Linked DNA regions of Homo sapiens: region 2 is linked to region 1. Evidence: fine-mapped expression QTL. Tissue or cell type: thyroid. Region 1 holds a variant in brackets; the other region holds the start of a gene. All regions are shown on one strand. Distances are between the middles of the regions.

Region 1 (2,853 bases):
TTAGGGTGTAGTACCCTTGCAAAACCTCTCAAATCATGAATCACACCAAGGAAGTAGCAGCCTTGGTTTCAGTCTTAGTTTTAAGAACTGGAGAGGAAGCAACATAATACAGTATTCCCATGAGACAGCAAAGCCTTTCTCCTCATTTTGCAGATGGGAAAATTGAAAAACAGCATAAGTGACTGCTCAATTTGACATGAATGAGGGGTAGAGCTGGAAACAACAACAAAGGACTGCACTTGGTTTTCTGTCACATTAAACCTTTATTTATCCAAAGATTTATAAGTTACTTTGTTTTACAACTCTAATCTCTATTTTTTAAGAAAATGGCAATTATATTTCCCCAGACTGTGATTAACAAATGTAATAATAAACATATAAATCCTTCCCATGGGATCCTGGTATATTGTTTTCTGGGTCAGCATGTTTTGTGCTCATAAAGTTTAATAAAACTTTGAAATGCTATTTTGAAATAATTCAAATACACTGCCAATTTTTCCTTTTTTGTGGGAATTTGTGTTTGATATGTACTAAATTTGGATGAAGTAGTTTTTCTTCCTTCATGTCTGTCATTGCAGCTAGAAGTTGAACATTGGATAATAAAATTTTTTATTTGGCCGGGCGCAGTGGCTCATGCCTGTAATCCCAGCATTTTGGGAGGCCGAGGCGGGCAGATCATGAGGTCGCAAGGTCAGGAGATCAAGACCCTCCTGGCTAACACAGTGAAACCGCGTCTCTACTAAAAATACAAAAAATTAGCTGGGCGTGGTGGCGGGCGCCTGTAGTCCCAGCTACTTGGGAGGCTGAGACAGGAGAATGGCGTGAACCTGGGAGGCAGAGGTTGCGGTGAGCCGAGATCACTGCACTCCAGCCCAGGCAACACAGTGAGACTCTGTCTCAAAAAAAAAAGAAAAAAAGAAAAGAAAAAATTTGTGTGACAGTGGCATTAATAAAATATTTATATAGGAAGACTTCTTGACTTTTAAAAGCTATTTCAAGGGTATATTTTTGTAACAAACTGAAATTTTTGTTAAATTATTTTTGAACAACTTTAATGTTCTAGCTCTTGCCTCAAAAGCACAAAGTAGAGCAATGAAACTATTTTTAAGTCTTCAACTTTGGAGGGCAAACTATCTTATTAATCAGGTTTTAGCAAATTTACTTAATAAAACTTATGCAGAAGTATGATTTAATTTTTTTCCATAACAAGGGCATAGCAATATTCTAATCATTTTGAGCCGTGAAATAGAACACAGAGTAAAAATCCTCTAGTCTATCCTATGTGGCAGTGGCAATTGTTTGTGGTATATGTTGCATATACACCCTAATTGCTTATGGTGTAGAGACATAAAAGAATATGTTTTGAGATCTGCACTAATAAGAAAAATGTCTGGGTCATCTTTAGCACTCTTTATTCATGACTCTATTTGCATGCCCTAATCATACACAATGAATCAGTAGTTT[C/T]GGCTGCTTAATGAACAAAAATTCAGAACAGAGAAGATAGCTTTCTCCAGTTGTGTCATCAGCTAGCAATTCCAAGGTCCCCGACAATTTCCTTAACACACACAACCCCCAGTAATTATAGCACATTTTCTAATAGATAACTTCTCAAACAAATTCTCAATTACGTAGGGGGTAAATCCATGCCTGAAGACTGCTTCATCACTGAGATTGGCTGTTTTATGCCCCCAAGCAGTGGCTGACACTTCCCTTTCACACAGTGTTCGGAACTCTTGGAGTGCATGAGACATCTGGGAAATTAGAGCTATGATAGGCTACCTGAGTCATGTTGGAGTCCTGCTCAACTGGAGAACACAGAAACGCATTGGTGTTTGTGGCTTTGTTCATATGTATGGGGGATTTTTGAATCTCATCTTACTTCCCATAACCTATTAATAATTGTCTTTATTTTGGCTTTTCAGACAAGAGAAAGATTTTTAACCTTTTCCCCTTAGCCTACGTACTTTGTTGTTGTTGCTGTTTGAGGCAGGGTCTTGCCCTGTTGCTCAGGCTGGACTGCAGCCGTGCAATCATAGCTCACTGAAGCCTCAAACTCCTGGGCTCAAACTATCCTCTTGCTTCAACCTCCTGAGTAGTTAGGACTACAAGTATGTGCCACTATGCCCATATAATTAAAAACAAAATTTTTTTTTGGAACAGGGTCTTGCTATGTTGCCCAGGCTGGTCTTGAACTCCTGGCTTTGAGCAATCCTCCTACCCCAGCCTCCCAAAGTCCTAGGATTACAGGCCTGAGCCACTGTGTCTGGCCAGCCTACATACATTCTTAAGCGTCCCCTTTCCCTAAAAATATGCATCTACTCCAAAATAAAATTTATAATTATTCTAATCAGTTTACTGCTTATTTCATAATTTTCTCAAACTATGTGACTAGAAAATTTTGACACTCAAGCTTAGTGAAATTATAAAAACTAGGTGTTGTTAATTCTCTAAGGATGATGTACCAAAGGGAGAGTTAGAAATAAGCATTTACAGCAATTACCAAACTAAAAGGCCAAATAAAAAATAGATAGCTTTTAGTTATTCAAATAACAATAATTATTATAATAATCCACGTTACTTTGCTCCTTGAAAATACAAACTCTACCTATTGTAACAATTTTGATCCCTTGAGCATATTGCTTGGCTTTTAATACATTTTATTCAAATATAACAAAAAGTCCTCCGTAATTAAACTGCAATATTTTTGTTGAAGTCAAATTACTATCATTGTGAACATATGCTATATGTATTTAGTAAAACAAACCAAAGGAAAAAAAAAGGGTTCAAAAATTCAGAATATATCAGAGAGATTCGAATATAATGGTTTATTGATGTACTTTAACATAAGCATGG
Region 2 (2,676 bases), 68 kb before region 1:
CCATTATCTTCAGCAAACTAACACAGCAACAGAAAACCAAACACCACATGCTCTCACTTATAAGTGGGAGCTGAATGATGAGAACACATGGACACATTGGGGGAACAACACACACTGGGACCTGTGTGTGGAGGGGGCAGTGAAGGAAGGAGGGAGAGCATCAGGAAGAATAGCTAATGGATGCTGGGCTTAATACCTAGTGATGGGACGATCTGTGCGGCAAACCACCATGACACATGTTTACCTGTGTAACAAACCTGCACATCCTGCAGAGGTACTACTGAACTTAAAATAAAAGTTGAAGACTTTTTAAAAAATCTAGAAAATTCCCCTGGGCTCCCCTTAAATCAGCCAACATTTCTTCAGAGGCAATCAGTACTTAGATTTTTATCATCCTATATTAGTTTTGCATATTTTTGAGCTTCATCTAAATAAGAATCAATTAGTATTCCTTTATGTTTACCTTCTTTTGGCCAACATAATATTCTTAAGATTGGCTCATGTTGCTATGTGTTCAGAAGTTTATTCTTTTTTGTTATGTGTTATTTCACTGTATATATATACTATATGTAAATAAGCCAAAGTCATTCATTCTCCTTTGATTAACATTCGGGTTGTTTCCAGTTTTTGACTGTTACAGTTGCTATGAGTATTTTACTTGAGTCTTTTTGTAGAAATATATTTTCATTTTACTTCTGTAAATGCCTAGGAGTTGAATTGCTGGATCATACAGTAAGCATATATTTAAATTTATGAGATACTACCAAATATATCTCCAAAAAGCTTGCTCCATTTTGCACTCTCACCAGTAATTTTGGGAGTTCCAGATGCTCTGTATCCTTACCAATACATGCAATTGAACTTTTTAAATTTTGGGCATTCTAGTATGTATGTAGTATCTCGTGTGGTTTTAACTTGTATTTCTCTGATGACCAATGATGTTGTGCCTCTGCTCATGTAATTGTTGGTCATTCACTAATCCTTGTTTGTTTGTTTGTTTGTTTGTTTGTTTTGAAGAAGAATCTGTCCAAAACATTTGTTTATTTTCATTGTTTTATTTTGTTATTAACTTGTAAATGTTCTTTATATATTCTGGATAAAAATATATATCATTTTCTTCAGTATGCATCTTGAGTTTTAATTTTTTATTGATGTTATTTGATTTTTATCAATATCTTTTGAATAGTAGAATTTTTAATTAAAGTTGAATCTATCAATTTTTTTTTCACAGGTAATACTTTTAGTGTCCTGGCTAAAAATTCCTTGCTGTACAAGGTAATGGAGACTTTCTTTTATATATTCTTCTAGAAGTTTAATAGTCTCAGTTTTTATATTTAAGCCTATAATTCTAATTAATTTTTATATTTGGTGTGAGGAAAATAGCATAGCTTCTTTTGTCCCATATTGATATCCGGTTGTTTCAGCACTACTTGTTTAAAGATTATCCTTTTTCCATTGAATTAAGCTGTTGACTTTACACAATCAATTTGCCATATGTATGTGGGTCTATTTCTGGAGTCTCTATTCTATTCTATTAAATTATTATTTTAAAATCATAATACATTAATTAGAAATGTGTTTTTAAATTTCTAAATATTTGAAGGATTTTCTAGATATCTTACTGTTTTGTATTTATAATTTAAATCCATAAATTATATAGATGGAGTGAGAGCATACACTTAAGATTTCAATCCCTAAAAATGTACTGAGACTTATTTTATGGTCCAGTATAGGCTTATCTTAGTGAACATCCAAAGGATGCTTCAAAAAAAATGGTTATTTTGCAGTTTTTTTTGATGTAGTGTTTTATAAATGTCAGTAAGATCAAACTGATTTTTACTGTTGTTCAGACTGTCTGTATCTTGAATTATTTTTGGTCTATTTCTTTCATCAGTTATGTGGGGAAGAGGAAAGACTGCTAAAAAAGTCAAACTAATTTGTGAACTTGTCTTTTTCCTTTTTAAGTTGTGTTAGGTTTTTGCTTCGTCATTTTTAAAGCTCTGTTATTAGTGAATGTACATTTAAGGTTGTTACGTCTTTCTGAAGAAATGCCTTTATTGTCATCATGAATTGTCTCTATCTCTGAAATCTACTTTGTTTGAAATTAATATTATAACACCAGATTTCTTATGCTTACAATTTGTTTGGTATATCTTTTTCTATCCTCTTACTTTTAATCTATTTGCTTCTTTGAATTTAAAGTGCACCTCTTTGAGACAGTGTGTAGTGACAGTCTCTGCTTTAAATGGGAGAGTTTGGTTGGTTTATTTATATTTAATGTATTTATGGATATAGTAGGATTTAATCCTAGCACCCATTTGTTTTTTTCTCATGTCCCTTAAGTATTTTGCTTCTCTCCTGCTCCTCTCCTGAATTTTTTTGGGCCAATTGAATTTATTTGTTGATTATAGTATTCCATTTACAAGGCTAGCGGTGTTCATTTTTACCTTAACAAAGTCTATTCAGAGTCAATATTTTACCACTTCACATTTCATACCTGATCTACTTCCTACTTACTCTTAATCATCTGAATCTTCTCAGTTCCTATTTCATACTTCTCACATTTCCACTTCTCACTTCACAAATTTGATAACTTACAATAGTATAATTGCATTACCCTCCCTATCATTCATTGTGATAGCATTGCCTATCTTTTATTTTGATACACTAAATAAC

What was found. PIP is the estimated chance that this variant, and not a neighbour inherited with it, causes the effect.
Region 2: it holds the start of LINC03056, and the variant in region 1 is fine-mapped to the expression of LINC03056 in thyroid (GTEx, PIP above 0.99).

What each region holds. Positions count from the first base shown.
Region 1 is chr12:63,303,924-63,306,776 of GRCh38, reverse strand. All of the region lies in intron 1 of LINC03056 (long intergenic non-protein coding RNA 3056), which reads left to right. Among named protein-coding and RNA genes, the nearest start is that of LINC03056, 68 kb to the left of the region's middle. The variant C/T (reference allele first, on the strand shown) is at 1,465.
Region 2 is chr12:63,372,309-63,374,984 of GRCh38, reverse strand. It overlaps LINC03056 (long intergenic non-protein coding RNA 3056), which reads left to right and starts at 1,232. Exons shown (of 2, transcript XR_007063345.1): 1 at 1,232-1,275.